Linked DNA regions of Homo sapiens: all the other regions are linked to region 1. The links come from fine-mapping of genetic effects on gene expression. A gene starts in region 1. Each other region holds a variant in brackets. All regions are shown on one strand. Distances are between the middles of the regions.

The links. PIP is the estimated chance that this variant, and not a neighbour inherited with it, causes the effect.
Region 2: its variant is the best candidate, but not a certain one, in a credible set for the expression of FERMT1 in subcutaneous fat (FUSION, PIP 0.84).
Region 3: its variant is the best candidate, but not a certain one, in a credible set for the expression of FERMT1 in left ventricle (GTEx, PIP 0.68).

The regions. Positions count from the first base shown.
Region 1 is chr20:6,117,579-6,127,667 of GRCh38, reverse strand. It overlaps FERMT1 (FERM domain containing kindlin 1), which reads left to right and starts at 4,638. Exons shown (of 15, transcript NM_017671.5): 1 at 4,638-4,894; 2 at 8,096-8,264. The coding sequence starts at 8,114. RefSeq lists a silencer at 4,633-4,752.
Region 2 is chr20:6,070,982-6,081,070 of GRCh38, reverse strand. FERMT1 (FERM domain containing kindlin 1) reads left to right here. Exons shown (of 15, transcript NM_017671.5): 14 at 1,494-1,635; 15 at 3,725-6,226. The coding sequence ends at 3,898. Among named protein-coding and RNA genes, the nearest start is that of LRRN4, 22 kb to the right of the region's middle. RefSeq lists a silencer at 6,637-6,786. The variant T/C (reference allele first, on the strand shown) is at 5,053.
Region 3 is chr20:6,082,417-6,092,505 of GRCh38, reverse strand. It overlaps FERMT1 (FERM domain containing kindlin 1), which reads left to right. Exons shown (of 15, transcript NM_017671.5): 10 at 3,417-3,541; 11 at 4,623-4,729; 12 at 7,219-7,440; 13 at 8,342-8,466. Among named protein-coding and RNA genes, the nearest start is that of LRRN4, 33 kb to the right of the region's middle. The variant C/A (reference allele first, on the strand shown) is at 6,428.

The DNA.
Region 1 (10,089 bases):
GTCATAGGCCTGTGCCCTCGCTGCAAGCGAGGTTGGGAATTTGAGTTCTGACTTCTAGACTGGGATTAAGACATAAAGATTTCCACAAATATTAAGGAGGCCATTCCAAGGATGATGGGCAGCCATGAGTATGACTGATATTTGCTACAATCATCAAGATATTTTCAAGTTAGAAAAGCAAAATGCAGAACAATATGTATAGACTACTATCACTTGCATAAGAAGCAGAAATTGTCTACATGCATAGACTATCTCTGGAAGGTTTCAGGGGAAACAGGTAACTATTATCTCTAGGGAAGGGAACTCAATAATCAAGGATGGGAGGAAGATTTAATTATCACTGTATACTCTCTTGTACCCTTTGATTAAGAAGGATGCAATCTAAGGAAGGAGAACAGGGGATGGAGGAGAAGAGGGATGGAAGGAGGGAGGCACTGTGTTTCTTGCTTCTCTCATTCTCAAAGGTGGGCTCCAGCATGGCCCCCAGCAAAGCCATTTTTACTCTTCTTTGCTCTTTGTCATTCAGCCCTGTAAGTACATTGAGACACACCCTTTTCACCCTGGCAAGGAGAAAACTTTAGAACTTGCCTGGGCATAGAAAGTGCTCATTATCCATCCAGTTGGGGAGGAGGGTGTAGCAATAATAGGCACATTCTGCTTCTTTGCACTCAGCAAAATGTATTCACTGCACACGTGAACACAGCTGCCATTTTGTATGTGCCAAGGACTCAATGCAAATAAAAATATATTTTAGGTGTCTGTTGCCGTTTTGAAGTCATCAGACTTCTAGCAGGTTTATAAGCTGAAAACTTAATAGAGAACTTTATATTGGGTAAATATTTATCAAAATCATCAATCAGGAAAAAAAAATCCACTTCTTTTCTCCTTCAAGCAGCTTTCTTATTCTACCTAAATTAACTCTATAGAATTTTTAGCAAAAAGGTGCTAGAGGAAAAAATCATTTGTGTTTAACAAGTTAAAGCAGCAGAGACTTTCAAAGTTCTCTACTCATTTATTTCCCTTTTGTGTTCAGTGAATACGGAATATGGCCACATCTCTCATTCAGTCTAATCTACCCATACCCCAGACATGACATGACTTACTTTTTTTTTTTTTTTTTTTTAACTGAGACAGGGTCTTGCTCTGTCACCCAGGTTAGAGTGCAGTGGTGCAATCATGGCTTACTGCAGCCTGGATCTCCCAGGCTCAAGCGATCCTCCCACCTCAGCCTCCCAAGTAGCTAGGATCACAGGCACATACCACCACACCCAGCTAATTTCTATTATTTTAAAAATTTTTTTCTTCAACTTTTATTTTAAGTTCAGGGGTACATGTGCAGGTTTGTTACGTAGTAAACATGTGCCATGGTGGTTTGCTGCACAGATCATCGCATAATTTTTATGATTTTTTGTTTTTTGGTGGAGATGTGGGTCTCCTTATGCCGCCTGAGCTGGTCTTAAACTCCTGGGCTCGAGCAATCCTACTGTCTTGGCCTCCTAGGTGTTGAGATTACAGGCCTGAACCACCACACCCAGTTGATTTACCTTTTTGAAGGTACTAGTTCAAAGGTGAGTTTATCAGTGTATGGGTAATTGACAACAGATTTTTTTTTCAATATTTGCAACTTGAATGTATAAGATTTCAAAGTCAAGAAATAGAGCTTCTCTTTATCTTCCACCCTTCTGCTACCTGAAGCGCAACTATCTGCTAACTAAAAAAAATATATTAATACCTTAAAACAGTTCTCTAGAAACCTCAGGTTATTATAAGAAACTATGAAGCTCTTATCCAATGTTTCAAATTCCATCTCAAAAATCACCTCCTTTCTGAAGCCTTTTCTCATATTCCCTGCCACTCCAAACACCTGGCAGAAGTAGACACATTCTTCTGTATTCCTTAGCATCCCTCCTATCATCTGAAGACAAAGTGCGTGCCCAGTTAATCTGAGTATTTTCAACATATATTACGATGTCTAGCTCACAGTAATACAGTGACTAGCAAATAAATAATCCATTGCTGATTAATATGTATGAATTAATTAAATAACAGACTCAGTGAATTGATTCTGCTTGTTTTTTAAGGGGGCAAAGGGTGTGCTTTTTTTAATATATATGTACAAAATTTTGAAGTTCAGAATACACTTTTTAACCCACTTCTAACCCAGGACCTTGGGGGATGGGTTGGACCTGTGTCACACAAACGACAGTAACCGTGTAATAAGTAAAACATAAAGTTAAATTAAAAGCCTAGGACAGCCGGCCATGGTGACTCACACCTGCAATCCCAACAATTTAGGAGGCTAAGATGGGAGGATGGCTTGAGCCCAGGAGTTCAAGACCAGCTCAGGCAGCTAAATTTAAAAATTAGCCAGGCACGGTGGTTCACACCTGTAGTCCCAGCTTGGGAGCCTGAGACATCAAGGCTGCAGTGAGCCATGATCATGCCACTGCACTCTGACCTGGGGGAGAGCAAGACCCTTTCTCAAAAAAAAAAAAAAAAAAAAAAGCCTAGGACACATAATATGGATAAAACTCACAAACATAATGTTGAACACAAGAAGCCAGACACAAAATAGTGCACATGGTCTGATTCCATTTATATAAAGTACAAAGACAGGCAAAACCCTTCTGAGGAGTTAGAAGATAAGATAATGGTTATCCTGGGCCTGGGGTCGGGGGTAGGGGCAGGCAGCGGCAGTGATCATAACTGAAAGGAATAACTAAAAGGGGTCACTAACGGGCTTCCGAGGACTGGTGATGTCCTGTTTCTTCAACTGGGCACTCTTTATACGCTAGTGTCTTTATATACTCTGTATACAGGTGTGTTCAGTTTGCGAAAACTCATCAGCTATACATTCACGATTTGTGCTCTTATCTATATATATTGTGTATATGTATGGGTGTGTATATATATGATACACATTTATATACACACAAGTCACTACATAAAATTACAAGTTTAAAAATTAACCTAGGCCAAGAAGAACGCTTAAAACCAGTCGAATTCTTTAGCACAATGCAGATATTTTCAATTGAAAAGAGAAAAACCATATTGGTATGAATAGATAGAGCCATAATTCAAGGTCACACATAAAATCTTGACCACAGGCTGGGCACGGTGGATCACACCTGTAATCTTAACACTTTGGGAGGCCGAGGCAGGTAGATCACAAGGTCAAGAGATCAAGACCATCCTGGCCAACATCATGAAACCTGGTCTCTACTAAAAATACAAAAATTGTAGTCCCAGCTGCTCGGGAGACTGAGGCAGGAGAATCACTTGAACCCGGGAGGCGGAGGGTGCAGCAGTGAGCCAAGATCGTGCCACTGCACTCCTGCCTGGGGACAGAACAAGACTCCATCTCAAAAAAATATATGTGTGTGTGTGTGTGTGTGTGTGTGTGTGTGTGTGTTTGTGCGCGCGCGCGCGCGCGCACTGACCACAGTCTAAGTTCTAATGGGCCATAAGCAGGGTTTCATGATGTTAAGAGGTAGGGAAGTGGGACCAGATGACCCTTCCCATCGTTGACAAACGCTACCAAGTGAAGACATTCTGTTTCAAGTTTTTAATGATTTTATTTCAATTATAATATCCTATATTTGCCAACAATGTTCAACTAACCTTTTTAAATTAAATGTACTTTCAAACCCATAATAATTCCTGAATATGGTAATGTTTAAGCGAAAACAGATTCAACTTCTAAATTTTATAACTTCTTTATTAAAATTTAAGTGTTCACAAGCCTTTTAATGCAAATCGCTAAAGCCTGTACTATATTGCATGAAATCCCTCCGTGGAAGAGCACGCATTCTATCTCTGTACCTATTTCACAGATGAGGAAACTGTCATTTCCATGTCTGTTTTATTAACCACTGTATTCTCTGAGCCCAGGCCCATTGGGAGGCCTGTAGAGCAGTAAGCACTCAACAAATGTGATTAAATGAACAAAGGAGGCTTGGAGAGGTTGTGTAAACTGCCCAGGTCACCCACCCTTCCTGGGTGGCCCCAGCCCTCTTTGAAAATAAATCCAACAGGAAGGCGACTGGCGGGACCGGTGGTGATCCTGAGGTGAGCCATACCAGGTGTGGCCCAGACTTCCGCATGCAGCCTGCCCTTGGGTCTCCTGGAGTCTCCCCTGGTCGGGAGCCTCAGCCTTCTGGAGACTGACACCACCCTCTTACTCAGAGACGAATCGTTTTGTCGTTGCCTTCACCTCCCTGACCACAAGTGCTCCGGGGCTCTTTCTGAGGGAGGCAGCTGTTCTAGGCGGGAGGCTGGAGTCTCCTGGGCCTGGACGCACCCCGGGGTGTGAGTGATGGGTATGCCTGAAAGGAGGGGAAGTGGCGCGGCTTTAATCATCTGGGCTAGTCCCCGGCGGGCCTGGGGGAACAGGGAAACTGGAGGCGGCCTTAAAGCGTCAGGATGAGACATCGCAAGAGGAGCTGCAGATACTGAGCGTGCGCCCCGGGTTCTCGCCGCCTTCTCTCCGCCGAGCAGCCCTTCGGCCACCCTTTGCCCTTAAAAATCTGCAGACTGCGCCTCCTCTCCGCGGGAGCGAGACCTAGCAGGCCCGGGGCTGGGCGTGCCCTCGCCTGCCACGCTGCGCGCTGCCCTCAGCCGGGCCGCTGGGGCCGTGCAGTGCACCGGGCACGCCGCGCCAGGCTGGGGGCAGGCACCGAGCCTCCGTGGGAGGTCCCGAGGCAGCTTCGCCTGCTCGCCCTGGCTCCAGCCCTCACCTGCCGCAGCCTTAGCTGAGCAGCCGCCGCCACTGGGCGCCCCCCGCTCCCCACTTCGCCAGCGCCCGCTCCTCGGCTCGGCCCGGGGTAGTTTGTAGGGACGCAGCTCTCCACGTGCGCGACTGCGAGGCTGGACGCTACGGGCTCCTGGAAAGGAGGTGGGTGCTCCGGAGCTAGGGCTGGGGAGCTAGAGGTTGGGAGGCTTTCATGGGCACCAGTGGCTCCTGAGCCCCCTTAGCCCCTTTCTTTCTGCAGCCTCTTGTACTTAAATAGCTGTTGATTGAAAATAATTTCGTCTGGATGTGACCACCTTCTCCGGCCCTACGCATCTGGCCGCAAAATAAACTTTCAGTTCAGCCGCAGGTGCTGCCTTAATGGGAGTAAGGGGCATGCTTTATCCACCCAACATCCGCCCCAGGATCCTGCAGAGCTGGCAAAAGACAGGTCGGGTGGCCTTCGAACACCAAGCACCTTCAGATATTCCAGGGGAAGGGTCGGGGACTGTTTCCCCCTCATCTTTCCTCCTTCCTGCTCTCCATCCCTCCATGCTTTCGTTTCTTTGACTGTCTGCGAAGGGCTTTTCAGCACTCTGCCAGTAACTTTGCTTCTTGTTTTGGTCTCCTTAGATGCGTTTTCCCGGCTGAAGTTTGCTGCTATCCTTGACAAGTAACAGCTTGCTGCAGACTAGACGTTCACTCAAAAATGAAGGCACAGAAAGATAGGAAAGGAATGCAGGAAAACCAGCTTGGCTAATTTTAGCCTGCATTTTGTTGTAAGGGGAATCAGCATCTATTGCCTGAATGAGTAGTGTTTTGATCACCCAAGTTAGGAAAAGACCTTATATCAGATTGCCCAGTGAAATAAGCAGTAAGGAATCACCTTTAAAAGTTATTTTCTTTATATACAAAACATTTTAAATAACTAGACTTCACAATTATAGCATTTAAGAAATTGTAAGGATCTTAAAGTCGAACAGTTCAATGCCAAGTTATGAGTTTGACGATGAAGGGGCATCTTTTGTCTCCTCACTGCGCAAGATTTGTGTTGATAGAAATGCTTAGTAAAGGCTACTGAGAATTTAGTTCACGTAGTTTGAGGAGTTTTCTTTCATTTTGGCATTGCAACATTATCAAAGTGGTTTCCCAGTGTGGTGAATAAGAGTTTGAAATAGAAAGGCAGACCTGGATTTCCACCTGGGCTCCAGCATCTAACTTGCTGTGTGACCTCAGGCAACTTGCTTCATCTCTCTGAGGCTGAGTTTCCTCATTTCTAAATGAGATTGCTGAGAGGATGAAAAAGGGATAACAGAAGACAGGAGTTAACACAGAGCACATCATACAGTCAGTAGGTAATAAATGATACCTGAAGCTGATGATGACAGAGGCAAGCAGTTAGGCCTAATGCAGTCACTGAGTGGCACTCCTCATGCAGAGGGTTCTGTGTGGATCTCTGTGCATGGGGAGGAGATGCATTGCATCGTTGCATGCTTCTGACTATAGAAACATAAGGAACGGCTGGGCGTGGTGGCCCACGCCTGTAATGCCAGCACTTTGGGAGGCCAAGGCAGGTGGATCACGAGATCAGGAGTTCAAGACCAGCCTGGCCAGCATGGTGAAACCCTGTCTCTACTAAAAATACAAAAATTAACCGGGCGTGGTGGCACACGCCTGTAATCTCAGCTACTTGGGAGGCTGAGGCAGAGAATTGCTTGAACCCGGGAGGCAGAGGTTGCAGTGAGCTAAGATCATGCCACTGCACTCCAGCCTGGGTGACAGAGCAAGACTCCATCTCAAAAAAAACAAAAACAAAACAAAAACATAAGGAGCTACTTCTGAACTCTTGAATTTCATCCTCACCCATAAAATCTGTCCTAAATCTGTTCAGATTTGCAGTATTCAATTTATCTGTGTAGCGTATTTTGAGATTCTCTTATGCTTACAAATGAGTCGTTTCGAATGAACATGCAGAACAGATATGACACTGGTTGTTTAATTATTATTAAAAGTAATGTTCCTCGGATATTACCATCATCCCTGGTTTAATATTGATCTAAATAGGTTGAAGGGAAGAACTGAGTATACCCACAGACCAGCAACATCTGGAGCCTGTTAAGAAATGTATGGCCCCTCCCTAGACCTGCTGAATAGAATCTGCATTTTAATAGGATCCCTGGGGGATTTGTGTACACCCTCAGAGAAGCCCTTTCTTAGGAGTTTGAGTGCATTGATGTTTCTTAAAAATAGGCCTTATGAAAACATGAATTTCTCATAAGCTGGCTTTACATAGTAAAGTGAAAAAGACTCATTATCATTTAAATAATTTTTACTTTAAATGTTTAAAACAGCCAGGAGCAGTAGCATTATTTCTTTCTGTTTAAAAGTAAGAGAGAACTGACATCTCAAGTTTTGTTTCAGTTCTGCCAATTTGGATTCCAGTGTTCCAGTTACCCCCTGAAACATTTCAGTTGTGAACGTTCTTTCCTGCTAGCTTCTCCCATGAGGGGAAAACGATGGGTTTGAAATTCACATCCCTATCTGTACTTTGAAGAGTGAGCTTTTTATATCTGTTACTCCTGTTTTTAAATCTTTTGCCAAAGATGTATCCAAATTTTTAATTGGTGCATTTATAATCAATTTTTATATGACATAGAACAATAAGTAAATCGAATACATGGCAATAATTATTAATGACCTGTATCTATATGTATTTAAGGTAAAACTATATATTATAATGACTGAAATAGGAATTATTTTGCTTTTTTTTATTTTTTGAGCTTTATTATGGGAAGATATACATTTTTGTAGGAGGAATGTAATAATATACATATATTAAAGATATTAAAGATAAGAGGCTTTAATGGCATCCTTTTTAAACATCAACTTTATTGAAGTATAATTTGCATACAACAAAATATGTTGAACTATAGTATATAAAATCTGCGCATTTTATTACATGCAAATTATACCTTAATAAAATTGATTTCTTTAAAAGATAATATGGAAGATTGCCTATTGCCAGAATAGTTGAGAGAAGGTCAAAAGAAGTCAATAGAGAGAAAATGAGGATTGAAGCATTGGGTGGACGAAGGAAATACATAGCCAAGTGGTCTTGGAGAAGTGGGTGAATGGAAAAATGAAGTATGTAAATTTAGATGATTTGAGACCATTTTTATAAAACTTTTTGTCTTCAAAGTTAAGATGCCAAATTTGATATCTGGAGCACCTGGAACCTTGCAGAGTGTTTTGAAGAGGAGGTTACAATGAAAAACAAAACAAAAAAGAAATTTTGCTCTGCAAGTCTACTGACAAGTCCCGTTTCCTTCCCACATTCCAATCTATGTCTGCCTTTTTGTTCAGCAGACACCAGCATTTGCCACAATGCTGTCATCCACTGACTTTACATTTGCTTCCTGGGAGCTTGTGGTCCGCGTTGACCATCCCAATGAAGAGCAGCAGAAAGACGTCACACTGAGAGTATCTGGAGACCTTCATGTTGGAGGAGTGATGCTCAAGTTAGTAGAACAGATCAGTAAGTTACTCTTGCTTTACGGTTTCTCTGTATTAGAAACCCTGTCTGGTGCATCACCACTAATGGCTGGTGTAGGTTTTTCTGATCATTTATCTTGTAATGCCCTGGAGAGCAATCCCCCACCCCTCATCCCAGAGGAGAGAAAGAAATAGCCCAGGCTGGGTGCCGTGGCTCACACCTGTAATCCCAGCACTTGGGGAGGCCAAGGTGTGCGGATCACCTGAGGTCAGGAGATCAAGAACAGGCTGGCCAACATGGCGAAACCCCATCCCTACTAAAAACACAAAAATTAGCCTGGCGTGGCGGTGGGTGCATGTAATCCCAGCTACTCGGAAGCCTGAGGCAGGAGAATCGCTTGAACCCGGGAGGCGGGGGTTGCAGTGAGCCAAGATCGTGCCACTGCACTCCAGCTTGGGTGACAGAGCAAGACTCGGTGTCGGGGGAAAAAAAAAAAAAACCTTGAGTCTTTGGTGGCAAGCTAAATTTCCCAGTAGGTATAATGCTGGACTTCAACAGGGATGGGACCCATTCCACCGGTGACATCTAATGTGACTTTAAGTAGCTTGGCATTAGACTACTGGGTTAACTCTCTGTTAATACTTGAGAGCTTAGTGATAAATTGGTGCTGAGGAGTTTTTCAACACTTATCCACCGTTTACTATGCTCCCTGTTTAAACAAAGAAAGAAATCTTCAGGGTTACACTCTTCACCTTGTAGCGTGTCAGATGTCAACATTATCAACCTAGAATTTAATAACATTCTATTTTCTTTGTGCTTCTTTTGCCTTCTATTTAAGGCCTTAGATGCGGGCTTTTCATTTGCTCTAGCAAGATAGTTTTTTTTTCAGTCCTTATTGACTGACATATAATATACATACAGAAAAATTCACTTATTATAAACAAGGCTTCACTTATCATAAACAGTTCAATGGATTTTCACAAAGTCTTGTAACCACTCAGATCACGAAATAGAACATCAGCTGTTCCCCACCCAAGCCCCATACCCCGACCCCTCCCAGTCACCACTACCAAAGGTAACCACTGTCCTGACTTCTAACACCACAGGAATCATTGCTTGATTTTGAACTTTATACAAATGAGATTATAAAGGATATACTCTTACACATTGACTTTCTTTCACTCAACATTATATCTGTGAGATTTATCCATACTGTTGCATATTGTTTTGGTTCGTTTTCATTACCATATAATATTCCATTGTATGAATATGCCACAATTATTTATCCATTTACCTCTTAATGGACATTTGGGTTGTTTACATTTTCATGCACTTACAGAAAAAGCTGCTGTAACACCTGTCTTTCAGAGATCATTTCTGTTGGGTGGTATAGTTCAGAGAAAAAAAATGCTGATTCATAAGGTTTTCCAAAATAGTTGTGCCAATTTATGCTTCTACTAACAGCATTAAGAGGAGCATTTTCTGGCTGAGAGCAGTGGCTCACGCCTGTAATCCCAGCACTTTGGGAGGCTGAGGTGGGTGGATCACCTGAGGTCAGGAGTTCAAGACCAGCCTGGCCAACATGGTGAAACCCCATCTCTACTAAAAATACAAAAATTTCCTGTAATCCCAGCACTTTGGAAGGCTGAGGTGGGTGGATCACCTGAGGTCAGGAGTTCAAGACCAGCCTGGCCAACATGGTAAAACCCCATCTCTACTAAAAATACAAAAATTTCCTGTAATCCCAGCACTTTGGAAGGCTGAGGTGGGTGGATCACGAGGTCAGGAGTTCGAGACCAGCCTGACCAACATGGTGAAACCACGTCTCTACAAAAAATACAAAAATTAGCTGGGCATGGTGGTGCGT
Region 2 (10,089 bases), 47 kb after region 1:
AAGTAATCCCCTTGCCTCGGCCTCCCAGAGTGCTGGGATTTCAGATGTGAATCACTGCACCCAGCCAGGCCTCAGTTCTTAAAGCATTCCTCTTCTCAATCTCTACTCACCTTCTTGGGTTCAGCCATTCTTTTGACTTCATTTATATGCCAATTACTCTGAAATATATATCTTGAGCCCAGAACTGTCTCTTGAACTGGAGATTCATAAATCCAGTGACCCTTGGATATCTAATGAGCATCTCATCTTTACATGTCCAAAGTTCCGGATCTTCCCCCTAAACTGGCTCCCCGCTACATACTTCTTCATCTCAGTAGAAGGCAACTCCTCGCCCTAGATGTTCAGGCCAAATCCTTTGGAGTCATTCTTGACTCTGCTCTTTCTCTTACACCAACATCCTGCCCATAGGCAACTCCTAGTGACTCTACCTTCAAAGTACACACAGAATCCGACCACTTCTTCCGCCTCCTCCTCCACCACCACCATCACAGAGCCGGTCCAGAGTGATCCTGCTTGGTGTTCCTGCCTCTACCCTGATCCCACTAAATTTTCAACTTAGCAGCCAGAGGGATCCTTTTAAAATCTAAATCAGATTTTGTGAAGCCTCTGCTCAAAACCATCTGGGACAGGTGTGACAGCTTATGCCTGTAATCCCAGCACTTTGGGAGGCAAAGGCAGGAGGATTGCCTAAGTTCGGGAGTTCAAGACTAGTCTGGGCAACATAACAAGACCCTGTCTCTACAAGACACACACACACACAAAATCTGAAGGATTTCTTATCTCACTCAGAGTAAAAGCCAGATCCTTACAGTGGCCTACAAGACCTTTGCTCTTGAACTCACATTTCTCTCCCCTCCTTCACTGTGTCAGCCACATGGGCCTCCTGGCAGGTCCTTAAGCACATTAAAAAAAAAATTTTTTTAAGTGGCTGTGCCCTCTGCCTGGAATACTCTTTCCCCAGATATCCACGCGGCTCACATCCTCATGCATATCCATTTTTTGATCAAATGTCACCTTTTCACTGACCTCCCTGTTTCAAACTGTAACCACCTTATTACCAGTATTCCCTGTAGCCCTTCCAACTTTATTTTCCTTCATCTTATCTGGCATATGTACCTCATACTTATGATCTTCTCCCTCCCACAGTCAGAAATTTTCCATCCGTTTAGTTTACTACTATATCTCCCATGCCTAGAAGGGTGCCCAACACAGAGTCAGTAATCATTTTGAATGAATTTATTTGATTCCATCTTATTTTTCTTCTCTCTGATGTCAGTTTTACTTAAAGACCATCTGCAGGATAGCCTTCATTCTTTTTTCACGCTGTCTATATCCCAATAAAAATGCCCCCCTGCAGAAAGTTAATTCTTCATTGTCCATTCCTCTGAAATGATTCAGAAATACTGGTAGTATTTTTAAGAAGTTATATGTGAGTGAACATTGTATTATAGGAAGCAGTTGCTTCTCTTAACTAATATTATGATTCTTTTCAGATTTAAAGGAAGCAAAAAAGATGACATTCTGGGAGTTTCATATAACAGGTTGATTAAAATTGATGCAGCCACCGGGATTCCAGTGACAACATGGAGATTCACAAATATCAAACAGTGGAATGTAAACTGGGAAACCCGGCAGGTAAAGTGAAAGTTTTTGCTCTTCAGTGTTGAGCCTATAAATGTGTGTCCCTCAGAATTGCAGATTATTCTGAGTTTTAAAAGGTGTTCTTCTATTTAGACCTAAGAAACCACAAGCATATGGTAACTGTCTGTCTGCTAAAATCATCATATGCAATTCTGGGCAGCTTCCTAACAGGCACAGGCCAAATGCTCTTGCATTAGCACTGCAAGTTGGCTTAGTCTCCATGCAGACTTTCAATACAGACAGGTTCTGAAATCGCTGAGCAGTTTCATTAATTTTCATTGACTCAGCATAGGATTATACAGGATTTAGCTTGATACTTACTTATGAGAAACTACTGGAGATGTAACTGCTATGCAAAATAAATCCAAAAAAAGCCTCATCTGACTGGCTGCCAAGAAACCCGATGGAGGACTGGAAGATTCAGTTGCTCACCTGGAGAGCATTCCAGGCCCAAAAGGGAAAAACTGCTGAAGAAGAAAGTGAGGTCCATAGTGATGACTGAGAAAAGCTTCACCTCTTAAAACCAGGAGCCCTCAAACCCCTAGCCTATGTTACAGCCTCCCATCATCTCCCATCCTAGGAGCTAAGTTCAGGCCAAGCCTGTATCATGGAAAATTCCAGATGAAGTTAGAGGCAGCTTAGCATCCTGCCGCTAATTTAAAACATTCTGCCCAGTGCTTTGGGAGGCCGAGGTGGGAAGGATCACTTGAGGCTGGGAGTTCGAGACCAGCCTGGGCAACATAATGAGACCCTGTCTCCACAGAAAATTAAAAAAAAAAAAAACAAAAAAAAAAAACGCTGAACTAGCCAGGTGTGATGGTGTGCACCTGTAGTTTCAGCTACTCAGCCAGGGATGATCAGTTGAGGTTCGAGGTTACAGTGAGCAGTGACTGTGCCACTGCACTCCAGCCTGGGTAACAAAGCAAGACCCTGTTTCATTCATTCTTGAATTAATTAAAACATTCAGATGTTGCTGATACAGACTCAATCTTCCCTCATTCCTTTGGCATTCTCATTTTCCAATAGAAAGTCACTGACGTAGAGGGATGGTAAGAGACCCACACATTTGTTAAGAACCCTGACTTCCTCTCAGCAGTGTTGATAATCATCTGGGTGCTTATTTGTAAAATCAAGTTCAGAGATTAGATGACCTCTAAGGCGGTAGCTCTAAAGCCTTGATGCGTATTAGGATCACCTGGGGAGCTTTAAAACACCACTGCCTAGACCACACCCAAGGCCAGTTAAATCTGAATCTCTGGGAGGAGGAACGAACCATTAGTAATTTTTAAAGGTCCACAAGTGATTTCAATGGGCAGCCAAGGTTGTGAACCAGCAAAGTCTCTAAGTCTTTCTTCTAGTGCTTAGAGTTTATGACTTGCAGCTAGGAAAGGGTTCCGGGCAGTGGCTGTAGGAAAATTCAGGCAGACTTTTATTCATTAAAGAGCCTGCAGGCCGGGTGCAGTGGCTCACGCCTATAATCCCAACACTTTGGGGGTCCGAGGCATGGATCACTTGAGGTCAGGCGTTCAAGACCAGCCTGGCCAACATGGTGAAACCCCCGTCTCTACTGAAAATACAAAAATTAGCCAGGTGTGGTGGCACACACCTGTAATCCCAACTACTTGGGAGGCTGAGGCATGAGAATCGCTTGAACCTGGGAGGCAGAGGTTGCAGTGGCCCGAGATCGTGCCACTGTACCCCAGCCTGGGTGACAGAGAGAGACTCCATCTCAAAAAAAAAATAAAAATAAAAATAAAGTGCCTGCGAAGCACCCTGCCCCTCAACACAGGGAGACAGAGAGTGCTTGGGCAAAATCCTTGTATCTAAACTGTAGACAGAAAATGTGTTGGGAGTTTTTTTAACCAGACGTGCAGCAAAGTCGACACCACCAGAGGGCGCAAAGAGAGCAAAGATGTTTTCTGGAAGCGTTTAATGGAAGTGATGGTTTTCTGTGTGTTTTAGAGGGATATCCATCTGTTATCCACCTCAGCAGCCCTCAGCTCCAGGGGCCAGTCCAGCAAAGCACTTTTTTTTTCATCATTCCTTGTCAGAGTTTAAGCTTCTCTGTGCCTTCCTCTTCCAGGTGGTCATCGAGTTTGACCAAAACGTCTTTACTGCTTTCACCTGCCTGAGTGCAGATTGCAAGATTGTGCACGAGTACATTGGCGGCTACATTTTCTTGTCCACCCGCTCCAAGGACCAGAATGAAACACTCGATGAGGACTTGTTCCACAAATTGACCGGCGGTCAGGATTGAAACAAGCACGCGTGCTCGGCTCACACCAACAAGGCAAGCCAAAGGCGCCCCTCCCCAGAGGGATCCCTAACGTGCCCAGCATGTAGATTCTGGACTAACAGACAACATACATTCACCGCTGGTCACCCAGATCCTCATTCAAACCCACTGCTGGCACATCCCTTTCCTTACTTTGCCCTGTGCTACCAGCCACGGAAGGAGCCTCTCTTGTTTTTTCTATAAAATGGGTAGGCAGGAGAAAAGCAGGTGCCCTAAGATTGCTCTAAGGCCCAGCATGTGGTTACAGTTCTCTGACTTGCAGAACCTGCCAGGTGTATGGCTACAAGTTATCCTCGTGCTGATCTGTCTCATTACTAAGTCAATGGAGAAGACAGAAAGGTAAAAATCACGTGTAGCAAGAACAACTCTTATTTCACAAACTCAGGTATGAAACGAAACGCCTGTCCTTCATGGAACTGCTTTTAGCTCCTGTCTTTTCAAAATGGCAGAGGGAGTTCCTACACACACTTTTTCCCTGGAGGCCAAGGTCTAGGGGTAGAAAGGGGAGGGGTGGGGCTACCAGGTAGCAGTTGACAACCCAAGGTCAGAGGAGTGGCCCTCAGTGTCATCTGTCCACAGTGATACCTGCCAAGATGACCACTGACCCACATCTGGTCTTAGTCATTGGTCTCCTCAGATTTCTGGGGCCACCTGCAAGCCCCATTCCATTCCTACAGATCTCTCAGCCACCTGTAAGTCCTTTGTGAAGATGTGGGTGACACAGGGGGACAGGAAAACCCATTTCTCAACCCAGATCCATGTCTCCACTGCTTCTACTCTGGGTTGGGATTCAGGAAGACAGGCACAGTCCTCTCTGTTCATAGAAACACCTGCCAGTGTCAAGGATTCCAGTCAGGTGTCTATCCCAACTGGTCAGGGAGAGAAGGGCAGACCCATTCTCAAAGACCACCATGTCCAAGGTCTGACAGCTCCCCACTGGCTGCCCCCACAGGGGCTTTAGGCTGGTCTGGGTCATGGGGAAGCGTCCCTCTTATCGCTGGTCTGTGTTCTCCTGGATTTGGTATCTATGTTGGTACGACTCCTGGCCTTTTATCTAAAGGACTTTGGCTTTTGTAAATCACAAGCCAATAATAGACTTTTTTCTCCCCCTCTGT[T/C]TTTTGCTGTGTCATCTCTGCCTTGAGACTGCCTTGAGACAGTGCTTGCCTTGAGAGAGTGAGCCAATTAACAGCTGCCTGAATTGTCATTTTCCATTTTGGTTTGTTAGAGGTGGGAGGGGTGGGTTTTGAGAAGGTCAAAAGCAATACCAGAAGTAAAGGGAAATATCAGACAATATTTTATTATTTTTTCATAGATGTTCTGCCACACAAAGAACTTGGGGTGTAAGGATAAGGCAAAAGCTCCAATCCCATTTTTCAGTTCTCCTAGGATGCACCCCTCAGGGAGCCTGGCCAGAGTTCCGAGGCCCGTGAGCGTCAGCTGTTGCTTTATTTTCCATCAAAGCCCTCTGAGAAGTGAGACCTCAGCAATTCCGGGAGCCACATAGAGACAGACTTGGCAAGGGACCCCCTGGTTCTGAGCCAGTAGCTGCCATCTGGAAATTCCTCTTTTAGCCTCTCCTTAGAGGTGAATGTGAATGAAGCCTCCCAGGCACCCGCTGAATTTCTGAGGCCTTGCTTAAAGCTCAGAAGTGGTTTAGGCATTTGGAAAATCTGGTTCACATCATAAAGAACTTGATTTGAAATGTTTTCTATAGAAACAAGTGCTAAGTGTACCGTATATACTTGATGTTGGTCATTTCTCAGTCCTATTTCTCAGTTCTATTATTTTAGAACCTAGTCAGTTCTTTAAGATTATAACTGGTCCTACATTAAAATAATGCTTCTCGATGTCAGATTTTACCTGTTTGCTGCTGAGAACATCTCTGCCTAATTTACCAAAGCCAGACCTTCAGTTCAACATGCTTCCTTAGCTTTTCATAGTTGTCTGACATTTCCATGAAAACAAAGGAACCAACTTTGTTTTAACCAAACTTTGTTTGGTTACAGTTTTCAGGGGAGCGTTTCTTCCATGACACACAGCAACATCCCAAAGAAATAAACAAGTGTGACAAAAAAAAAAAAAAACAAACCTAAATGCTACTGTTCCAAAGAGCAACTTGATGGTTTTTTTTAATACTGAGTGCAAAAGGTCACCCAAATTCCTATGATGAAATTTTAAATTAATGGGCACCTTTCAACATCATTTGCTTCCTTATCTACAGTTGATTCAGAAATCTGCATTTTTTATTCTTTTATATGACTTTTAAGTAAAAGATTTATATGGATTTGAGTACGGTCCTGTTGTGTCCTCTCCAACCTACTGTCTCCAAAAAGGTGACTTTTTCCTCTCTTATGAAAAGGGACTGCAACTCTGAGGTCTAACATGTGTCTCTCCTCACAGCGCCAAGATTCCGGGTCGTTCCCTCCCGTGGTGTGGGGAGTGGCAGATTCCAGGGGTCCTCAGAGAGCCCCTTAGAAACCTCACTTACCCGCTGGTTTCAACTCCTTTCTCACTGACTTGGTCACAGATTTCCTGGCATATCCTGCCTTATCATGAGCTCTTTTGTCTCTTTCCAGTTCTATATTAAAACACACACACACACACACACACCAGCAAGCAAAGATCCCCAGCGGCAATAGAACAGCAGAAGCCTCTGATTCTGATGGCTGAGTGTTGAGGGCACTTTGCTTTAGTGACATGCAGTTTATAGATATCCCTTTGTGCAATTCTCCTGTCAGCCCACAGAGGGTAGAAATGGCTTCCTCTACAAAGGAGAAAGGTTCAGAAGGTGAACTTGCCCAGGGTCACACTGCCAATGAGCAGTGTTTGTCTTGACTCCAGAAGCCACTAAGCTTAACCCAGCAAACCCCACCCTTCCTTCCCAGCCTTGCCCAGCCTTGAAATGCCCCTTACCCTAGCTCCAGAGCAGGCGTTCCTGAGCTCAGGCTCATACCAGTAAGAGAGAACCAGGGGCATTAAGAGCAGTTAGCTGTGGGAGGAGAGGCTGGACCAAAAAGGTCTGGGAGCCAGAGAAATGAGGTGCTTAGAGTGTTGTTGTTTTTTTCTTTGTTTTAATTTTTGTTTTTGTTTTTTGAGATGGAGTTTCACTCTTGTTGCCCAGGCTGGAGAGCAATGGCGTGATCTCAGCTAACCACAACCTCCGCCTCCCAGGTTCAAGCGATTCTCCTGCCTCAGCCTCCCGAGTAGCTGGGACTACAGGCATGCACCACCACGCCTGGCTAATTTTGTATTTTTTTTAGTAGAGACGGGGTTTCTGCATGTTAGTCAGGCTAGTCTTGAACTCCTGACCTCAGGTGATCCGCCTGCCTCGGCCTCCCAAAGTGCTGGGATTACAGGCGTGAGCCACCGTGCTTAATTTTGGGAAAGTTTCATTTTTAGTCCCACGGTCAGAAAAGTAAGGAAATGAGGAAGCTTTAATTTGAAAACTCATTTAATACAAGAAGTCAAGATATTTTATAATATCTGTCTTCTAAAATCACTTTAAAATTTTATTTTTAACTCACAAGATTTATTTTTGGGGGCTGGGCATAGTGGCTCACCTTGTAATCCCAGCACTTTGGGAGGCCAAGGCAGGAGGCTTACCCGAGCCCAGGAGTTCAAGACCAGCTTGGGCAACACAGCAAGACCCCATCTCTACAAAGATTTTAAAAAATTAGCTGGGCATGGTGGCACATGCCTGTAGTCCTAGCTACTTGGGAGGCTGAGATGAGAGGATCCCTTGAGCTCCAGGAGTTCAAGGTGGCAGTGAGCTATGATCATGCCATCACACTCCAGCCTCAGTGACCCTGTCTCAAAAAAAAAAAAAAAAATTGGCTTCTACATTTAGTATCTCTATATTCATTTTAATTATTTTCTCACATAGCGTGACTTTCCTGCCTCTCCCCCTTCCACTCCTGTCACCCCAGAATCTCTCAGTGGTAGGAGACAGAAAGGGAACATTCCTCTTTGTTATTTCACCCATCTTTCCTTCTCATGCACCCTACAGCCAAGGACTCTTGAGTCCAGGAAATCATAGCTGGAAAATCTGAAAAACTGAAAAAGTGAAGCCCTTGGCCCTCACTTGCTTCAAAGTTTTTCCAATTCCTTGAACCTCACTGGAGTTGTGTGGAAATATTGAGTGCTATCAGAAAGAGGGGAGGCCGGGCACGGTGGCTCACGCCTGTAATCCCAGCATTTTGGGAGGCCGAGGCAGGAGGATCACCTGAGGTCGGGAGTTCGAGACCAGCCTAACCAAAATGGAGAAACCCCGTCTCTACTAAAAATACAAAATTAGCCAGGTGTGGTGGCACCTGCCTGTAATCCCAGCTACTCGGGAGGCTGAGGCAGGAGAATCACTTGAACCTGGGAGGCAGAGATTGCGATGAGCCGAGATCACACCATTGCACTCCAGCTTGGGTGAAAGAGCGAGACTCCTCCATCTCAAAAAAACAAAAACAAAACAAACAAAACAAACAAACAAACAAAAACCGAAAAGAAAAAGCTATCCTGACATTTGCACACACATCTCATGTTGCATCAAGACTCAGTGATTGGCCGGGTGTGGTGGCTCACATCTGTAATCCCAGCATTTTGGGAAGCCAAGGCGGAAGGATTGCTTGAGCCTAGGAGTTCAAGACCAGCCTGGGCAACAGCAAGACCCTGTCTCTATTTAAAATAATCATAATAATTTTTGTAAAGGCTCAGTTATCTCAGAGGAGTCCCAATTTTTAAAAAACCTGAATGAGAATGCTCCTGACTAACACCTGTGGGGAAGATTCTTTCCACTAAAAGGATTTACCTCTTTTCTCCAACTTACTCTGTGAGCTCCAAAAACACCCATAATTCCCCATGTGCTGCAGTGTCTTCAGTCATCACAGAGGAAAAGTCCTATAGCCGCTTCTCCCTAGCCACTGCAAATGACAAAAGCTGCATGGGGACTTAACAGGATAGTGTCTCTCTTCTTCACCCCTGGAAGTTGGGCGGGGAGGCCTCTGGCTGCCCTCTGACATCCCTCAGTTGCAAAAGTGGAGCGTGGAGAGAAGGCAGAGCCCTGTGTGAGAGGAGCAGAGGATCTGGGGGAGGGAAGGGCCCAACACCCCAAGCCTGTGCCCTCTGACTCAAGAGATGTGTTGATGGACATAAATGGGGCCGGTAACAGGGAAGGCAAATTAAGTTCAAAAATATAGACAGCTATGACTGCACCACTGCACTCCAGCCCGGGCGACAAAGCACGACCCTGAGAAAATTTTATTCTCTAAAAATAAAATTTTAAAATAAATATATAAATATATATATAATATAAATAAATAAATATATATATAAAACTGTAAGGAAAGAGTAGGGCTTGCAGCAAGGCCTGGGGTCAGGGCTCAGTGCATAGGCTCTATTGCTGGTGATGGGGTAGCTGGTTTGGGCCCAGCCCCTGGCTGGTAGGGGAGGCTATTGGAAGAGAGCAAAGACCTCTTCCAGGCAGTGCTACAGAGGTCAGGAGGCAGAACTAATGGTGGGATATTCTGGGAAGCCAGGAGGGCTGGGGATGAAGGTCTGACCAGGTGCTTACAAAGGGGCCCTGAATCTCTGTGCTACCAGCTTAATTTCCTGAAATGTCACTAAAGAACCAACATTATTGGCAGCCAGCCCAGCCCATGTGACCCAATGTTATTTAAAAAGAAAAAGAAAAATGTAGCAGAACCACTGTTACCTTTCTAGGAGTTACAGACATCCAACTTCAAAATAGAAACACCCTCATTGCTATTGAGGGTGAGATACCACGCATGAAACCCACGTGGACTGCAACTCAAAGTGTGGTCCTTGGCCCAGCAGCATTTGTCAGAAAGGCAGAATCTCACAGGGCCAGGACTAGGGTGGCACAGGTGAGGCATCCCGGGCACAGCATTTAAGGAGGCCCTCACTGTCAGGGTCGTACAGGGCACCTCCTCGGCTCACCCTAATCCCAGCTCTGAGGTCCACCCAGACCTTTCTGAGTCAGAGTCTGCCTTTTAACAAGACTCTCAGCGATATGTATGCCCAGAGGAGTGTAAGAAGATCTGGCCTTAGAGATGTGGCATGGATTTGGCAGGGAGGATACCAGACACCAGAGGAATTGTCAAGAAAGAGTGTAGATGCCATAAATTCTGCCAGCCAGTGTACTG
Region 3 (10,089 bases), 35 kb after region 1:
AGTGACGTGATCACAGCTCACTGCAGCCTCTACCTCACAGGCTCCAGCGGTCCTCCCACCTCAACCCTCTGAGTAGCTGGGACTACAGGCATGTGCCACCATGCCTGGTTAATTTTTGTATTTTTTGTAGAGACAGAGTTTCACCATGTTGCCCAAGCTGGTCTCAAACTCCTGGACTCAAGATCTTCCCTTTTTGGCCTCCCAAAGTCCTGGGATTCCAGGCATGAGCCACCATGCCCAGCCTAGATACAAATTTAAATGTCTTATGTGTTTATGTAATAAGGGAATCCTGAAAACATAAAATAGAAACTGATCCGGGATGACAAAACCTATGAAGCCCTAACATATGTAGTTGCAAAAATACCTAGAGGGGAATATCCACAACCAACTACAAAAATTAGCCAGGTGGTAGTGGCACGCGCCTGTAATCCCAGCTACTGGGGAGGCTGAGGCAGGAGAATCGCTTGAGCCTGGGAAGCAGAGGTTGCAATGAGCCGAGATTGCACCACTGCACTCCACCCAGTCTGGGCAACAGAGTGAAACCCTGTCTCAAAAAAAAAAAAAAAAATTCTAACGAGAGCCTGGAGAGCCTGTCTCGCTCGTTCTTATGCACGTCATTCACCACCCAGCATCGCCTCCGCTGCCCCTTCCCCTACCCTGCCCCAGGCTTTGCTGCATAGAGCAGCAGCAATGATTAGCTTTGTTAATGTGTCAGAAGCATCCTGAAAGATGACAAAACTTCCAGGCAGGAGATAGGAGGAGGAACTTGAGATCTCTTGATACTCTTAAGGTCCAGGTAGAACAGAGAAGTAGGGCCTCATTCTTAATCCTAAAGAGAAATATTTAGAGGCTGAAGATTAAACCAAGACCTTATTACCTGTATCTTTTGGTTAAAGGTGCTGTCTTTATTATTCTGAAAATACTATTCATTTTGGAGAATCTGAGTATTAAACAACAATATGTTCCTTAGAACTGCCTGGGCATGGAGGCTCATGCCTGTAATCCCAGCACTTTGGGAGGCCAAGGTGGGCGGATCACTTGAGCTCTCAGGAGTTCAAGACCAGTCTAGCCAACATGATGAAACCCCAGCTCTACTAAAAATACAAAAATTAGCCGGCCGTGGTGGCACGTGCCTGTAATCCCAGCTACCCGGGAGGCTGGGGCATGAGGACCGCTTGAACCCAAGAGACAGAGGCTGCAGTGAGACAAGATTGCGCCACTGCACTCCAGCCTGGGTGACAGAGCAAGACTTCATCTCAAAAAACAAAACAAAAAAAAGAACTGTCTTAACTACAGCCCTCAACATGATAAATACCAATTTTTTGGTTTTTGTTTGTTTGTTTGAGACGAAGTCTTGCTCTGTCACCCAAGCTGGAGTGCGGTGGCGTGATCTCGGCTCACTGCAGCCTCCGCCTCCTGAATTCAAGCAATCCTTGTGCCTCAGCCTCCGGGTAGCTGGGACTACAGGTGCACGCCACCACGGCCAGCTAATTTTTGTATTTTTAGTAGAGCCAGGGTTTCACCATGTTGGCCAGACTGGTCTCAAACTCCTGAGCTCAAGTGATCAGCCTGCCTCGGCCTCCCAAAGTGCTGGGATTACAGACACGAGCCACCGCACCCAGCAAATAAATACTATTTTAATACAGTGTTTTTTCTTAATCCTGGAAATGTTAAGTTCATATAATGTTTTTCAAATTTATTTTATAAATTATATGTAATATTCTTCTGTAATACACTGAGGGGGTTTTGCTGGGTTTTTAAATTTTATTTATTTATTTTTTAGAAACAAGTCCTTACTCTGTCACCCAGGGTGATCATAGCTCACTGCAGCCTCAACCTCCCAGGCTTAACCAATCCTCCCACATAGCTGGGACTATAGACACACCACCACGCCTGGCTAATTTTTCTTTTTTTGTAGAGATGTGATCTTCCTGTGTTGCCCAGGCTGGTCCTAAACTCCTGGCCTCAGGCAATTCTCTCACTTCAGCTCCCCAAAGTGCTGAGATGATGGCACTGGCACCCAGCATATACTTTTTTTTTTTAATGTGCAACTTCTTTCCTATCTTTGTGTTAAGGATAACATATGTTTAGCTAAGGAAAGACTAGTACTGACATGTTTAAAAAAATTGTCCCAGCTGGGCGTGGTGGCTCATGCCTGTAATCCCAGCACTTTGGGAGGCCGAGGCGGGCAGATCACAAGGTCAGGAGATCGAGACCATCCTGGCCAACATAGTGAAACCCCATCTCTACTAAAAATACAAAAATTAGCCAGGCATGGTGGCACATGCCTGTAATCCCAGCTACTCAGGAGGCGGAGGCAGGAGAACCCCTTGAACCAGGGAGTTGGAGGTTGCAGTGAGCCGAGATCGTGCCACAGCACTCTAGCCTGGCAACAGAGCGAGACTCCGTCTCCAAAAAAAAAAATTGCCCCAAATTACATATGAATGGTTCCTCTCTTCTCCAAGAGGAACACCAAGGTTCCTTTCTTCTCCCATTCTTGATGCAGAAGTCCGCCCCTCTGGCATGAGATACCCTGATCTGCCCCCACGGCCAGGTTTCTTCCACAAACCGCATACTAATAATTTCTTTTCTCTGCCTATCTCCAACCCCTGTCCTCCCCCTAGCTCATTCTCACGTTTCCTATTTTGAATGACCCAACCTTTAGGCCTGCCACTGGCACCACCAACCTTGTCTAGTCCACTGTATAAAGTTTTCTGGCCCCAACAGATACCAATACCACAGCTGGATACCTTTCCCCAAAATAGTTTTTAATAACAGTAGAGTCTATATTGACTAGCTGTAGATATCGCTGATTTCCATGGTTCACTGAGAATTCTCCCATAGTTTCTCTTAAGGGTGAAGAGGAAACTACAGAAAATGCTGCTCATGTTTATATCTGACTTGTATGTATGGTAACCTGAAGCTTGGGCTGTCCATATCGACAGCTTTTTCAAATGCAAAAAGTATGCCGAGATTCCAAATGTCACCAGATTCATGTCGGTTCCTCACATACACCATCACAGTTAACACTTCAGTTGCATCAGGTGTTGTGATAAGCTCTTCATGTAGATGAACTCATTCTGTCCTCACAAAAGCCCTGGGTTCCCAGACTACGACGGTCCCCATCACACAGAGGCAGTGCACGCAGCCCAGGTAAGTGCAGGATCTTTCCCAGGACACACGTGTAGACAGTAGCAGAGCCAGGTGTGGCCCCAGGTGGAGGCTTAGTGTTAAAATCTACATCACATATCAGCATTTCATTTCCAGCGCTTGGAAATTAGCAATTTGAAATTATTTTTGAAAAAACAAAGTGTGTTTTCTTTGACACAAACATCTGATCTGATCTGCTTGAAATCTGCAGCGTGTTCCACATTTCTGGGTGGTGGTTTAAACATTCACTATCTTTGAATTTGCAGGCCCAAGAAGTTACTACCAAAAGCTTTCAAACAATATTGGTTTATCTTTAAAGACACATCCATAGCATACTTTAAAAATAAGGAACTTGAACAAGGAGAACCACTAGAAAAACTAAATCTTAGAGGTAAGAGTACCCTATATCTTGCTGTGGCTCATCGTAAGTCAGGGCAGACGCGGTGGCTCAAACCTGTAATCCCAGCACTTTGGGAGGCTGAGGCGGGCGGATCACCTGAGGTCAGGAGTTCGAGACCAGCCTGGCCAAGATGGTGAAACCCCATCTCTACTAAAAATACCAAAATTAGCCAGGCGTGGTGGCACATGCCTGTAGTCCCAGCTACTTGGGAGGCTGAGGCAGGAGGACCACTTGAAGAGGTGAAGGTTGCAGTGAGCCGAGATGATGCCACTGCACTCCAGCCTGGGTGATAGAGTGAGACTCTGTCTCCAAAAAAAAAAAAAAAAAAAGAGGTGAGCAGATTAAAGTCAGGGTTTCGACACCATGAGGCACGGTTTACTTACTTCTAGAGGAACCACCAGAACCAGTGTCACTGTTTTCCAAATGACAGCCTGGCTGCAGCTGCTCTTCCAAGCATGAGCCTTGAATGCAGTCTAGTAAACATGATTATTTGCATTCTGCTGTTCCATCTTTCTCAGTGTGTCCAGAGTTTATGATGTGGTGGTAATTCATGTCCAAGAGTATAGCACATGAGGTGCTGTAAGATCCTGAAAAGTTTTCTGTATTCCAGAACAGTTATATTTAATTCAGTGTCACTTTAATGCCTATTCTAATTTCTGAAGGTCACTGTGAGCGTCCTGATAACCATCTATTAATTGAAATATTTAATTAACCAGTACACTCAACTCACATTATTGTGACAATCAGAGAATTCCTTCTGCTTTGATTTATTTTAAAGTTCATATCCACAATTTTTTCTATGAGTTTGGAGAGCCAGCATTAACCTGAAAATGAACTAAATTGACTTTTTAAGAAAACTGTAAAAGAAAAGCATTTTTCTTTATCTATGTTAATTGTTCATAAGATTTATCTAATTATCCATTAATTAATGTTATCAGCTTGCTCCTCCATTTTTCAAAACCAAAGCAAATCTGAGGGGCTTGTATTCAAAGTCTTTATTTCAGATACACACCTGATGTTTATCTAACAGATGCCTCAGAACTCAGTTTTGTCTCTGATCTTTGTCCTTCAGGCTGCGAAGTTGTGCCCGATGTAAATGTAGCAGGAAGAAAATTTGGAATCAAGTTACTAATCCCTGTTGCCGATGGTATGAATGAAATGTATTTGAGATGTGACCATGTGAGTAAAACCCCAAAAATATTAAGTCACTTCACCTCCACTAAGCCTAAGAGCAAAACCCAAAAATGTTTTCACAAATTTAGAGCACTATTGTGTCACTCAGCTATTGCTTTGTAACAAACAATCACAGTGTAACAAAATCACAATGACATTCTAACAATAAACATTTGCCATGCAGTGGCTCACACCTGTAATCCCAGCACTTTGGGAGGCCAAGGTGGGCAGATCACCTGAGGTCAGGAGTTCAAGACCAGTCTGGCCAATATGGTGAAACCTCATCTCTACTAAAAATACAAAAATTGGCCAGGCATGGTGGTGGGTGCCTGTAATCCCAGCTACTTGGGAGGCTGAGGCAGGAGAATCACTTGAACCCAGGATGCAGAGTTTGCAGTGAGCCAAGATGGCACCACCGCACTCCAGCCTGGGTGACAGAGCAAGACTCTGTTCCCCCAGAAAAAGAAAAACAATAAACATTGTTTTCTGAAAGATGTGCTGAAAGGTAGGCTGGGGATTGGATGATCCAGGATGGTGTCAGCTGGTCATATGGGTTTGGAGACACAGGTTTGGTGGGACTGTGCCTCTGGTTGAGCTGATTTTATTTATTCTGGGTCCCAGGCTGCCTAGGGAAGGTCTCCTCTTGGTGAGGGCAGAAGTGTGAGAGGGCACGTAGCAACACATGCACCTCCTAAAGCTTAGGCATGAAGTTGGCACACTGTCACTTCCACCCACATTCCATTGGCCAAAGCAGAAGACATGACTGAGCCTGCAGTCAAGGGATGGGAATTCCTCCCTGGTGGGAGGAACTGTAAAGTTATATGGCGAAGGTTGTGGATGGCAGTGGTGGGGGGTGTATTAGTCCATTCTCACATTGCTATAAAGAACTACCTGAGACTGGGAGAGAAAAGAGGTTTAATTGACTCCTAGTTCCACAGGCTATACAGGAGGCATGGCTGGGGAGGCCTCAGGAAACTTACAATCTTAGCGGAAGGTGAAGGGGAAGCAAGCACATCTTCACATTGTGACAGGAGAGGGAGAGAGTGAAGGGGGAAGTGCCACACACTTTTAAACCATCAGATCTCATGAGAACTCACTCAATATCACAAGAACAGCGAGAGGTATATCTGCCCCCATGATCCAATCACTTCCCACCAGGTCCCTCCCCCAACACTGGGAATTACAATTCAACATGAGATTTGGGTGGGGACACAGAGCCAAACCTTATCAGGGGCAGTGAAGATTGAGGCCAGTAATTCAACGTTCCTCACCCACTGTTGCACTGAAGAACGCCCCTCTTTAACTGTATCCCTTGCACTTCTGAGGACCACCCCTGTTCACTCCCTGAAGTCAGAAATAAAACACAGAAATTAAACAGCAATAGAAGCCACCACTGACTTGTTAAGATCCCATAATGGCCATGATTGCTACCTTAGAGTTAGAGTCTTTACCAAGGATAGACCAGGATACAAATAATATAGGAAATCAGCTAATTTTTTTCATCATTTTCTTTTGGGCGTAGAGACCAGATGTGATATGAAAACAGAAATACATATCAAGGAAAGCTGACAGTTTGCGGTTTCACCACCTATCTGTGCCCCATGGCACTTCTTTGTGTCCTTGGACCTTTTTTTTTTTTTTTGAGATGGAGTCTCGCTCTGTCACCAGGCTGGAGTGCAGTGGTGCAATCTCGGCTCACTGCAA[C/A]CTCCACCTCCCAGGTTCAAGTGATTCTCCTGCCTCAGCCTCCCAAGTAGCTGGGACTACAAGTGCCTGCCACCACGCCTGGCTAATTTTTTTGTATTTTTTAGTACAGATGGGGTTTCACCATGTTAGCCAGGATGGTCTTGATCTCCTGACCTCGTGATCCACCCGCCTCGGCCTCCCAAAGTGCTGGAATTACAAGTGTCAGCCACCACACCTGGTATTTTTTTTTTTTGACAAAGTATTGTTCTGTCGCCCAGGCTCGAGTGCGTTTGTGCAATCTTGGCTCACTGCAACCTGCATCTCCTGAGTTCAAGGGATCTCCTGCTTCAGCCTCCCAAGTAGCTGGGATTACAGGCATCTGCCACTACGCACAGCTAATTTTTGTATTTTTAGTAGACACAGGGTTTCACCATGTTGGCCAGACTGGTCTCGAACTCCTGACCTCAGGTGACCCACCCACCTCAACCTCCCAAAGTTGAGGATGACAGGCATGAGCCACCGCACCTGGCCCTTGGATCATCTTTAAATGCAAATTCCCTGCATGCAATTTATCAAAGTTGACATTCCTATCCTCTAGCCTCCCAGCATCTAGAAACTCAACACAGGACTCAAAAACTACTGTTAGGTGTTACATTAGCTGATGAGCAGCCACTCACAACGTGTGCCACTTCACATCTTGCTTGGAAGGTGATGGTTTTGCACTGTAATGGGGTAGAAAGCCCAAGTCCCCCTCTGTGTGCAGCAGGGGGCTTTGCACTTGAGCTTGCTTCTCAACCTTCTGTTTGCTGCAGGAGAATCAATACGCCCAATGGATGGCTGCCTGCATGTTGGCATCGAAGGGCAAAACCATGGCAGACAGCTCCTACCAGCCAGAGGTCCTCAACATCCTTTCATTTCTGAGGATGAAAAACAGGAACTCTGCATCTCAGGTGGCTTCCAGTCTCGAAAACATGGATATGAACCCAGAATGTTTTGTGTCACCACGGTGTGCAAAAAGACACAAATCCAAACAGGTACTGTTAATCTTGTTAGGGCAATTGTTTGCAGTAAATTCTTTATGCAAACAGAAATAAAAGGAGGATTTCCGGCTGGGCATGGTGGCTCACACCTGTAATTCCAGCACTTTGGGAGGCCAAGGTGGGTGGGTCACTTGAAGTTGGGAGTTCAAGACCAGCCTGGGCAACACGGTAAAATCCCTTCTATACTAAAAATACAAAATCAGTCAGACGTGGTGGTGCACACCTGTAATCCCAGCTACTTGGGAGGCTAAGGCAGGAGAATTGCTCGAGCCCAGGAGGTGGAGGCTGCAGTGAGCTGAGACTGCACCACTGCACTCTAGCCAGGGCAACAAAGCAAGACTGTGTCTCAGAAAAAAAAAAAAAAGGAGTAATTCCATCTAATTAAGAGTATCATCATGAAAAAATCAGTTGATGCTGAAATTTGACTATGTCCTGAATATTAGATGATGTTATGAAATTATTGTTAATTTTGTTAGAGGTGACTGTACTGCTGACTAAACATGTAGGTATTCCCAGATTGAACTTATTTAGTTCTCACAAATTAATAATTAAAATTATGCTTCTATAGGAGTGGGTTAAAAGTTGCACAGATGAGCTGATTCATGTAGAATCATTGTCTGTGGACACTCCACAGACCTCAGACAGAGGGACCCCAGAGCTCTCCAACTGCACCAACTTTAGAAGTTTATGTGTTGGGTGATCCTTTTCCTGCTTCTTCCAGTGATTGTTGTATCTTGTAGAAAAAGAGAGAGAATGAATGGATGAGAATGGATTGTCTTTGTAGAGCTGCAGACGGACCTTGAGTGTATTGTTCTTATGGGGGATCTGGAGCTAACAGGGTGATCACAGAGCAGCCGGTGCATGTGAAGAGAGGTTGATGTCTGTTTCTGTTCAGCTGGCCGCCCGGATCCTGGAGGCGCACCAGAACGTGGCCCAGATGCCCCTGGTCGAAGCCAAGCTGCGGTTCATCCAGGCGTGGCAGTCACTGCCTGAGTTTGGCCTCACCTACTACCTTGTCAGGTGATTACAATGTTCACTTGTTTCTCACACTTTCCATTCAATTTTAAGTGGCTTTTGGGGAGCCCCAGTTTTCTCATTTAGCATAGAATATAGAATGCTTTTTATTTGAGAATATTGCCCTTTTATAAATAGTCCTGACACTTTGGGCTGCTCATAAACATTTTCCATACCTTCTGTTCTAAGTTCCAATACCCCTGAAACTCAGCTAAATGTGGGAAAGGAAATTTTAAAAGGAGGGTTTTTTTTAGGATAACTACATTTCCAAAACCAGAGGGTAAACATCACATATTGATTTTATGAAATCTGTAACTTCTTTTCGGTTTTTTTTTTTTTGTTTTTTTTTTTTAAGAGATCGGGTGTGGGGAGGGTGGCCGGGGGGGGGGGTGTCTCATTTTGCCGCCCAGGCTGGTCTCGAACTCCTGATCTCAAGCAATCCTCCCACCTCAGCCTCCCAAAGTGCTGGGTTTACAGGCATGAGCCACCACACCTGGCTACGACTTTCTTTCATGTCAGCTTCCTCCTTTTTGTGTCTCATAGTGTCTCGTGGTGTGGCTTTGCAGAATTGTTAGGTTTTTAGAGAGGTCCCCGCAAGCTCTGTCTTATTTCTACCCAGGTTTATCAGGTAGCAACCCTGTTCTCACTGGTCTCTGAAGATTTCTGGGTCTGAAGGATGCATAGGAGGCCCATCTATTGCCCCCAGAAAGACAGCTTAAGTGACTTGTCCAAGTTCACCCCCAGTCCAGGGCACACTTGGCATAAAGCCCTGCATCCTCATTTGTTATCCCCGCCTAGCACTATGGCTCTGCCCCACTGTATACAATGGATGGTTTCCCAAAACATATCCACAAGCATGCTTGTAAATCAAATTACATTCTTCAGTTCAGAAAAGGAGACTGATGCTTAAGCAAAATCTACCCCCAATCCTACAGTACAGCAAGTACTGTCACTTTCTCATCTTATAATTTCGGGGTGGGATAATTGGTTTGTATTTTTAATCATTGGCAGTTTTTGTTTTCTTGGCCCTTTCCAAAGACTCCATTCCTCCATTACTTCTAACAGGGGAGTCTATTCAGACTTTCCAGCTGGGCGCGGTGGCTCACGCCTGTAATCCTAGCACTTTGGGAGGCCAAAGTGGACGGATTGCCTGAGCTCAAGAGTTCAAGACCACTCTGGGCAACGTAGCAAAACCCCATCTCTACTAAAAATACAAAAAAAAATTAGCTGGGCGTGGTGGTGTGCAGCTGTAGTCCCAGCTACTCAGGAGGCTGAGGCACTAGAATTACTTGAACCTGGGAGGTGGAGGTTGCAGTGAGCTGAGATCGCGCCACTGCCCTCCAGCCTAGGCGACACAGTGAGACTGTCTCTAAAACAAAAACAAAACAACAGAAAAAACAGACTTTCCTATTCACTGAAATATCTCATTGAATATCAGTCCCCAACGTTTGTCCCAAACAAGCAACTCCTTCTGCTTTACTTACCCCAACAAAGGAGTGAGGAAGCGCGGAGTCGTACTGGATACCCACTATGTGCGCGCATATGTGTCCATGTGCGGACACACACACACTCACCTGTAACCCTGAAGTCAACCCCGCATAGTGAAAACCACATAAATACTTGAACTGA